2 separate regions of the Homo sapiens genome follow, and region 2 is linked to region 1. Evidence: fine-mapped expression QTL. A gene starts in region 1. The other region holds a variant in brackets. All regions are shown on one strand. Distances are from middle to middle.

The links. PIP is the estimated chance that this variant, and not a neighbour inherited with it, causes the effect.
Region 2: its variant is fine-mapped to the expression of SP110 in blood mononuclear cells (TOPMed, PIP above 0.99). The same link has a PIP of 0.9 or more in whole blood.

Annotation. Positions count from the first base shown.
Region 1 is chr2:230,217,962-230,223,442 of GRCh38, reverse strand. SP110 (SP110 nuclear body protein) reads left to right here and starts at 3,459. Exons shown (of 19, transcript NM_080424.4): 1 at 3,459-3,569. It also overlaps a transcript of SP140 not described here. RefSeq lists a silencer at 3,347-3,533 and an enhancer at 3,251-3,730.
Region 2 is chr2:230,168,396-230,173,395 of GRCh38, reverse strand. It overlaps SP110 (SP110 nuclear body protein), which reads left to right. Exons shown (of 19, transcript NM_080424.4): 15 at 437-552; 16 at 1,222-1,330; 17 at 1,629-1,700; 18 at 2,635-2,775; 19 at 4,159-5,000. The coding sequence ends at 4,272. Among named protein-coding and RNA genes, the nearest start is that of SP110, 49 kb to the left of the region's middle. The variant C/G (reference allele first, on the strand shown) is at 2,113.

The DNA of each region.
Region 1 (5,481 bases):
TTAAGAAAGTAGGCAGTCCAGGCAGGTTATATTGACTCACTTGCCCTTTGTCATAATATAGTTGAAAGATATCTGGATCACCTGGACATCCCATAGAATGTCAGACTGGGCTGGGCATGGTGGCTCATGCCTATAACCCCAGCACTTCGGGAGGCTGAGGCAGGCAGATCACGAGGTCAGGAGATCAAGACCATCCTGGCCAACATGGTGAAACCCCATCTCTACTAAAAATACAAAAATTAGCCAGGTATGGTGATGCGTGCCTGTAGTCCCAGCTACTCAGGAGGCTGAGGAAAGAGAATCACTTGAACCTGGGAGGCGGAGGTTGCAGTGAGCCAAGATTGCGCCACAGCACTCTAGCCTGGAGACAGACCGTGACTCTGTCTCAAAAAAAAAAAAAAAAGTCAGACTGATTGATGACATCATGCTGATCAGACAGGATGAGCAGGATCTTGGTGGCTAGCATACCTGCTAAAGAAGAATAAATTACTGACCCACAACAACAGAGATGAATCTCAAAAGCATGATGATGAGGAAAAGAAAGCCATACACCAAAAATGCATTCCATGTGCCTTCATTGATAAAAAAAAAAAAAAAAAAAACTTTAATACACACGAAACTAATCTGTGGTGATAGAAAGCAGATCAGTGGTTGCCTGGTGCTGGCCTTAAGGAGGGGATTGTTTGCAAAGGTCACAGGGAACTTTCTAGGGTAACAGAAATGGTCTGTATCTTTTTTTTTTTTTTTGAGACAGGGTCTCACTCTGTCACTGCTCACCAGAGACTGGACCTCCTGGGCTCAAGCAATTCTCCCACTTCTGTCTCCCTGATAGCGGGGACCACAGGTGTATGCCAACATGCCCAATTAATTTAAAAAAATGTATTTTTGTAGAGACGAGGTCTTGCTCTGTTGTCCAGGCTGGTCTCAAACACCTGGGCTCAAGCGATCCTCCTGCTTTGACCTCCCAGAATGCTGGGATTATAGGCACAAGCGACTCTCCAGGCCTAGAAATGGTCTACATCTTGACTGGTGTAGTAACTACATTTGGTAAAATGTACATTACAATGAATAAATTTTATACCTCAATAAAATGGAGCTAAAAAGAATTATGTATAATTTATCTCAGTACATAATCACTAGCATGTGAATTAACAGGTGACGTTTTCCCATTATTACCATGTTCTCAAGCATGCATTTTTTTTTTTTTTTTTTTGAGGCGGGATCTCACTCTGTTGCTCAGGCTGAACTGCTGTGGCGCAGTCTCAGCTCACTGCAACCTCCAGCTCCTGAGTTCAAGCGATTCTCATGCCTCAGCCTCCCGAGTAGCTCGGATTACAGGCATGTGCCACCACGCCCAGCTAATTTTTTTGTGTTTTTAGTAGAGACGGGATTTTGCCATGTTGGCAAGGCTGGTCTTGAATTCCTGGCCTCAAGTGATCTGCCTGCCTCAGCCTCCCAAAGTGCTAGCTAAGCTACAGGCCTGAGCCACTGTGCCCAGCCAAGCATATATGGCTTAGAATAAACATCTTTCATCCTCATTCGCAGCTGTCTTTTTTTCATGTAACAATTTTTGCCTGATTTGACATTGACTTTATTTTCCCACTCCTGCTTTACTTTTGTTTGTTTGTTTTGCATTTGCCTGGTGTATCTCTGAATAGATCTAAAGGAAGAAGTTCTTGCTGCCAGGATCCTCAGATGCCCATGAAGGGGCTTTCCAGGTGATGGGGAGGGGCTTCAGGTAAGTGACATGTGACATTTGCATAAAATAACCTTAATTCCTTTACCACCGCCATCCCCTGCATCACAGCGCTGTATGTTACTGCATGCTGAGGCATCAATGCACCCTCTCCTCAGCTGTTAGCATTGAATTTTTCCTGGCTGTGGCTTCCATGCCTCTGTTTCACCCACAGCCATTACCCGCAAGGCCGGGTCTGCTATTCTGTACATACTAGGGTGGGATATGCTGTTTGTGCCTGCATAGAAGGGCTTGCTCTTATGCAGTTAGCCTTGGTTTCAAAGCTTCTTAAACTTTAGATCCATGTCTCCCATCTTTTATCTGAGGAGTTTGTGGATGTCCTGGTAGGGGAACTTGTGGGTCAAATACATTTGAGAATTATTGATTTAATCAAAGTTACATAGAATTCTTTTTTTTTTTTTTTTTCGAGATGGAGTCTTGCTCTGTCACCCAGGCTGGAGTGCAGTGGTGCGATCTCGGCTCACTGCAACCTCCACCTCCTGGGTTCAAGCAATTCTCCTGCCTCAGCCTCCCAAGTAGCTGGGATTACAGGTTCCCGCCACCACATCTGGCTAATTTTTGTATTTTTAGTAGAGATGGGGTTTCACCATGTTGGCCAGGATGGTCTCAAACTCCTGACCTTGTGATCCACCCATCTCAGCCTCCCAAAGTGCTGGGATTACAGGCGTGAGCCACCGAGCCTGGCCCAAAGTTACACAGATTTCTATAGTGCAGTGGTGCAATCATAGCTCACCGCAGCCTTGAACTCCTGGGCTCAAGCAAGTCTCCAGCCTCAGCCTCCTCACTAACTAGGACTACAAGGTGCATGCCACCACACTCAGTTAATTTTTTATTTTTTTATTTTTTGTAGAGATGGGGTCTCACTATGTTGCCCAGACTGGTCTCAAACTCCTAGGCTCAAGCAATCCTCCCATCTTGGCCTCCTAAAGTCCTGGGATTATAGGCATGAGCCACTGTGCCTGGCCAATAGTTTAGGATTTTTCATAGGCCCCACATGTCAATGTACATTAGGGATCTTTAAAAGGGGCATGAGAAGGGGTGTCCCTGCCAGCCCTTGAGTTACTGCTCTCTGGAATCAGCAGGTCCCAGTTCTGCCTCAGACTCCTGGCTCCCAACTACCTGCCCAGCTCTCAGCCATTTTTCTGCCTGGAGGTCTGCCTGCCTCTGCACAATTCCAGTTCATGTGCAGGTTCCCTTTCATTTCAATTTCTTCCTGTAATAATCTTATCCTGACAAGTTCTAGGCATTTCTGGCACATTCTCTTTGTTTTTTTGTGTGTTGTTAGAGTTTGATAACACACTGGATAAATTCCAGTGAATTCATTCAGTTATGTAAACATCACCACAATCCAGTTTGAGAACATTTTCATCAACCTAAAATGTACAGAATGAGGACAAGTCATGGGAAAATAGATGTGGTTAGGGAAGCATTTGGACGCTGAGTTCCCAGTTCCTATTGCCGCTGGGGCTGTACCCTTATGCCTCCTCCTCCCATACCTCCCTCTCTGGGCTGATCCCAACTGGCAACACGCCCTCCCCCAAACCCCAACTGCCAAGACGTCCTGGGAGCCTCACAAGTGCCCATGAGGAGGTGGAGAGAGGCTGCAGGCACCGACCTGCCTTCAGCTTCCGGCTTGGCAAACTCCGAAAACTTTCACTTTTCTTTTCTCGGAAGCCCGGCCCCTTACTGCGTTTGTCAAAGCACAGACTTCCTGTTTTGCCTGCTAGCATCTCCCTGTAACTCTCCCAATCTTGAGGAGTGATCCCTGTCCCAGCCCCTGGAAAGGGGCAGGAACGACAAACTCAAAGTCCAGGTGAGTTTCTGTCTTTGCTGCTTTATTCTTCGCTCTTGGTGACTGCAGCTCTTAGAGTTAACTTCGCGGCAGCAGCTGCAGGGTGGAGTTCAACTATTTAAACTCTGAGGCTCTCTCAGAGCTCAGACATGTGGTACTTATTAGGAGACTGTTAAAAGGGGGCACATGGAGGGAACACTGACACCTCTTTTTTTCGCCAGAGTCCAGCCTGTTATTGTGAATGGAGCCGAGATTTGCCCTCTACCCTCACCTAAGCTCTGATCCTTCAGTGCCCGCAATAGGCGGCTCATCTGTTATCCATTGTGTAAATGACTAGAGGTACTTGGGAAGCTGGTGGAAAAGAAAAAAATGAGAGTACATTTAATTTCGTCTCTAGTGTATCATGAACTTTTTATATATTTTCTCTAAATACATGATTATTTCCTTGAAATAAATTATTAGAAGTGGAAATTCAAAGGAGCACATGTTTTAGGACATTTGACACTGATTACTAAATCAGCCTTCAGAACATTTGGACCTGTTGACCTTCCCACTCACAGTGTCTGAGATTATTACTATTATTTTCTATCTTGGCCAATTTGATAGACAAATATGTTATCAAATTGTCTTCATTTACACTTTTTTTGGTTGTTTGTTGTTGTTGTTTTCTGAGACGGAGTCTCGCTCTGTCACCCAGGCTGGAGTGCAATGGCACCATCTCAGATCACTGCAACCTCCACCTCCCAGGTTCAAGCGATTCTCCTGCCTCAGCCTCCTGAGTAACTGGGACTACAGATGTGCACCACCACGCCCAGCTAATTTTTGTATTTTTAGTAGAGACAGGGTTTCACCATGTTGGCCAGGCTGGTCTCGAACTCCTGACCTCAGCTGATCCGCCCACCTCAACCTCCCAAAGTGCTGGGATTACAGGCATGAGCCACCATGCCTGGCCTTCTTTATGCTTTCTACTAGCTAGTTAACATGCTTATCGTATTATTCATTGCACATTTGGCTTATTCTTTTATCACTCTCTGTTCATGTATTTTGCTTTTTTATTTTCTAGTTGGATGTTTGTCTTTTGCTTATTCGTTTGCAAAATCTCTTTACATAATAAAAATCTGAACAGTCATATATGAGATGTAGTATCTTGCATAGAAAGAAACAGGGCTTTAGAGTCAGACAAGCTCTGCTTTGCCACTGAATACCTTGGGTGAGTTACTAAACCTCTCTGTGCCTCCCTTTCATCTTTGGGACTCATGACAGATGAAGAATGAGGAAGCTCTAGACTTCCTGTTCTGAGCGCTGCTGTATAATGAATTGTTCTAAAAGGAGCCTCCAAGACCCCTTCCTCTTCTTAGTATATGTTTACTCTGCCTTTCTCTGACTTTGCACTGATCTTTGCACTATCTCCTTCCCCTGTGCATATTGTGGATAGTAGATTTCTCTCCTATCTGTTCTCTATCTTCCAAGACTTCTTTACCACCACAGACTCTCAATGGCATCTTTTCTTGTTTTCCTATGCGATTGCGGATTATTCTTTTCATGAGTATTTTTTTCTGCCAAGTTAAAAAAATTGGGGAATGAGGAGAAAGAGACTAGGGTGCTTAATCTGCCACTGGGATTAAATCCCTGTAAACAGTTGTTAATTACGATTTACTTTTCTGTTCAACACAAAATGAAGTTGGAAAAGTGGAATCCATGTTTGTTCTGTTTGTTAAAAACTGTCAAGTTGATTGAATGTTTTGTTAGTGCTTTTCCTTTTCTTGACAATTTGTCAAGAATGTCATTTGTAAACTTTCTTCCCATTATAACCTATTGATATCTCCTCACAGTCCATAAATGGCCAATCTTTAATACATGCTGCATGGGCATGGGAAAAGGCGCATGTCTGAGACATGAAATGGTTGCAGTGAACAAGTCAGTTAAGTCACTT
Region 2 (5,000 bases), 50 kb after region 1:
AGTTAGGCAAGGCACCAGGAACAACAGTTCCCATACTCCTGCACCCAAATGCCAGTTATCATCATTTCTTACTTTGGTCAGTCAGATCTATTAATAGAGGCCTGGTGGGCTCAGCAAATGCGCCCAGAGTGGCCCAGCTCAAAGCACAAGCTTGCCAGCAGGCAGCAGCACAGCTCAAAACGCAGCAGAACCTGTTGGCAAGCCACAGCCAGAGAAGAAAAGTCCTGGTGGCGGCGGTCACCACCCAGACTCTCTGCTTGTTGTGCCATTTGTCTTGCAATTTCCCCCAGGGAGGTGGCATCAGCTCCCCCCATCAAAAATTGGGTTTGGATATCCACTCTGGCACACACAAAAATGATGTGTTCTAGAACCCCACAGGGTCAGCATTCGTGGGTCTCCATGGTCCTAGCGGTGCCCACGTTATCTGCCCTTGCAGCGGAAAAACTCGGATGAATGCGAGGTGTGCTGTCAAGGGGGACAACTTCTCTGCTGCGGTACTTGTCCACGAGTCTTCCATGAGGACTGTCACATCCCCCCTGTGGAAGCCAAGAGGTGAGTGGGATGCAGCCCCGCCTCGGGCACACAGCACTCACCTCCAGATGGAAAGGGCAGGACCTGTGAGCGTCGGGGACGAGGGTGTGACGCAGAGCAGTCTGGTGCCAGAGACTCTGGGCCTCTCTGGGTCTCTGAGACTGCCAGTGAGCCTCTTGGCCCCACACTGCTTCTGCCCCTGGAAGTGCCCTTTCCTAGTATGCTATTCCCTGGACAGCAGGGACTCCTGTCCAAAAGGAGGAGGGGACGGGAAAAGCCAGCTTATGTTCTGTGCCTGTTGAGGAAAGACAGGAAGCACGGCTTGTCACACATTTCACCATAGTCTCACCTGGCTGATGGAGGCCTGAGGTCCCTGCAGGTGAAAGCCCAGATTCTGACACTCAAGCCTGGCAGGCAGGGTTCCTTTGTGCTCCCAGCAGCTCAGACAGGGAAAAGAGAGCCCACACTTAACAGTGACACCACCTTCCTCAGGCTGCCCGCCTGCCGCTACCACTGATGCGAGGGAAGGGCCAATGCTGGAGACCCCATGTGGGGATCTTGGACACTCTGGGAGGTGTCCCACCCTCATGGCTGAGCCCATCCTTCCTGAGGGAAGACAGTGGCAGCCACAGGAATGGTGGCCATTTCCAGGGGCTTTGCCCTCTGCTCACCTTGTGTCCAACCTCTCAGGATGCTGTGGAGTTGCACCTTCTGCAGGATGAAGAGGTCTTCAGGAAGCCAACAGTGCCATCATGTATCTAAGACCCTGGAGAGGCAGATGCAGCCTCAGGACCAGCTGGTGAGTTGGATGCAAACCCCAAACCTATACTTTTCCCTTCTCACACGAGAAGCACAAACAGGCACAGGGTCAGGGCAATGTACCAAAGGGAGCCTTCAATGTCTCCCTTTAAAGGATGACGATTTAATGCCCAAACTCAGAGTCTAAACAAAATCCCACACACCCTGTGCGCCTTGGGAAGCATGGCTGGAATGCTGACTGGGCTTGGCTGCCCCATCCGTGTGCATGTCTAGACACTCGCCTGGCTTCACTGTTTCTAAGCTGCATTTCACTTTCAAGCCCTCTTCACATTTTACAGAAATGTGAGTTCCTCCTCTTGAAGGCCTACTGTCATCCACAAAGCTCCTTTTTTACGGGCATCCCATTTAATGTAAGTCACATTTTACGGTTCTCTTGCATAAAATGCATTTGGAGAAATTTGGGGGCTGATCTGGCAGGTGCTGCAGTTTGCTCAGGAAGCTGGAGAACAGAAGAGAAGGGCAGCGTGGCAGCAGTGGAGCGGGGCAGCAGGGATTTTGCTGCACACTCTGGAGAGGGACTACCTGGTTCAAACTCCACCCCACTGCTCACGGGCTCTGGGATACCGGGCAAGTTGCTTCTCCTCCTGTGTATCTGTTTCATCTTCTCTTTAGGAAGAATGTCTTTCCTACTAGAGATTAAGAGTCACAGATGCCAGCTGGGCTCAGCGGCTCACGCCTGTAATCCCAGCACTTTGGGAGGCCAAGGCGGGCAGATCACTTGAAGTCAGGAGTTTGAGACCAGCTTGGCCAACATGGCAAAAC[C/G]CCATCTCTACTAAAAATACAAAATTAGCCAGGCATGGTGGCAGGCACCTCTAATCCCAGCTACTCAGGAGGCTGAGGCAGGAGAATCGCTTGAACCCAGGAAGCAGAGGTTGCGGTGAGCCAAGATCGCACCACTGCACTCCAGCCTGGGTGACAAAGCAAGACTCCATCTCAAAAGAAAAAAAAGAGTCATAGATGCCAAACTGTGTGGGTTCCCATCTCAGCTCTACCACTTTCTTGCTGAGACATCTTGGGTAGGTTCCTTGACCTCTCCATCCCTCGGTTTCCTCATCTATGAAATGGGCATTATTATTTATGGTACCCATAAATGTGGAGATTACATATTCATATACTTGGCTTAGAATTTAGTTTATCTAGTGCCTAGAACAATAGCTGGCTTAAAGAGGTCAAATGGTATTATCATTATGACCCTGGAAATGAAGGCTTGGATTGTATTTAAGTTGGATCCATTCCAGTGATGACAGCTGTGCTAACGTCACCTCTGGTGGCTTTGTCCCCAAGATTCGAGATTACGGTGAGCCCTTTCAGGAAGCAATGTGGTTGGACCTGGTTAAGGAAAGGCTGATTACGGAAATGTACACGGTGGCATGGTTTGTGCGAGACATGCGCCTGATGTTTCGCAACCATAAAACATTTTACAAGGTAAAGAGCATTTCCTGCTTCCTTTTTGCGTCTTTTCTACTTTCCCCTAATTTCTGGGACAGCAGAATTTTGCAAGTATTACACTCAGTTTCAGCCTGGGGAGAGCTCAAACAAGACAAGGATTACAGAAAAAAAACCACCTCGGCATTCCTGGAGGCAAGGAGTGAGTGGCAAAAAGAACAGCAAGCAGGACAGGGGAGGGATCTCTGGAACAGAAGCTGAAAAAAACCATGCTCTGTTCCCAGATCGGCAGCTCGCTCCCAACGAGAGCAGTAAATGGCATCCAGCCTCTTTGTTCAAACTGGAAGGAAAGGCAGTTTATGCCTACATTGTTCTTCCTGCCTCAGAAATATGAAAATAAATAAGTAAACAACATAAAATCAATTAAACTTCCTGGATAATCAGGCTTGCATATTTTTACACATAAATTTCTCATTGGACTCAAACATCTGGAATTGCCTTCAGATCCAATGTTGGTTTCATCCTCCTTTACTAGGGAGGGACAGCTGGTTGAGCTATCCTGCAATCCCAGACATTTGTAACTTTGGTTTTTCCTGATTTTTATCCTCACTTGTACAGATATTTCTTGGGAGGTACCTAAGGAAGATTTTCATCTCCACCCAGCTTCCTTCCCTTCTTCCATGCCAGGAGTTGGCATGTTCACAAACCACAGATTGTAAACTGGTACCCATTCATGGAGCTGCAGGGAGAAAGGGTTGACCAGAGAGCCACTCAGTGCCTGGCATATCCGTAGTCCTGGAGAACAGAGGGTCATCCTTCCTCAGCGAGTGGGCTTCCAAGAAATGCATTTACAAAAATTGTTAAGCTATTTTGCATCATGCTCAGATTTGCCATGATCAAAACTAACCCTTCAGTCTAAATCGCCTGTCAGGTGGAAATTAACAACCAGCTGGAGTCTCATGCTTTTCAACATTTTAGTAGCAGCATCTCCCCATCCATTCTGCCTTACTGCTGGGCTCCTAAAAAAATAAGAGTGAGGCTGGGCATGGTGACTCACATCTGTAATCCCAGCTTTTTGGGAGTCCGAGGTGAGGGAATCATCTGAGGCCAGGAGTTTGAGACCAGCCTGAGCAACATAGCAAGGCCTCCTCACCCCGATCTCTGAAAGAGAAAAAAATGTTTTAAAACTTTGGGCATAGTGGCATGTGCCTGTAGTTTCAGCTTCTCAGGAGCTGAGGTGGGAGGATCACATGAGCCCAGGAATTCAAGGCTGCAGTGAGCCATGACGGTGCCACTGCACCACAGCCTGGGTGACGGGGAAAGACCCTGACTCAAAAACAAAAACACAAAAAAAAGTATGAGTGATTTGATGGCTGTAATCCTTCATCCTTCAATGTGTTTGTTTGCTTTTTTCTCTTTCAGGCTTCTGACTTTGGCCAGGTAGGACTTGACTTAGAGGCAGAATTTGAAAAAGATCTCAAAGACGTGCTCGGTTTTCATGAAGCCAATGACGGCGGTTTCTGGACTCTTCCTTGACCCTGTTCTGTAAAGACTGAAGCATCCCCACCTCAGGATTCAGCTGATGGGACCCTGGCTTGGACTGTTGATTGCCAGTGAGTCTGGGATGTAATTGGCTGCCCTCAGGACCCAAACCCAGACACTTCATAGGATTATCACACCCTCCATCTTTATTCTTTCTTTTTACCTTTAAAAGTCTATATCTACACTAAAAAAAAAAAAAATTAATACTTCCTTAATACCATCAGATACCCCATCATAGTTCACATTCTCCCCACTGTCTCATAAGTCTTTTTAGAGTTGATTTGTTCAAATCAGGATCTAAACAAGTTCCACACACTGCATTTGGCTCTCCTGTCCCTATGTCTCTTTTAAGCTATAAATTGTCATGTATTTATTGAAGAACTCAGGGTTTTGGTCCTATTACATTTTTTGCAATCTGGAATTTTCTGGTTGCATTTTCTTAGTGGTATAGTCCTCTCTTCCTCTCATTTTTTGTAAGCTAGAAGTTAGATCTAGAAGCTTGCTTTAACTCAGGTTTTGAGGGGTTTGTTTTGATTTGGGGGTTTTGGGGCACATGCAGGCTTCACAGGGGAATTTAGTATTATTTTTTATGTTAAGGTTGGCAGCAGGTGCACGTGTTATCAGCCTGATCATCTATCACCTGATGGTTTTAGCAATACCTAAATCCGTGATATCATCAGAGGTTGCAAAATGATGAGATTCAGGTTTTTTTTTACATAATT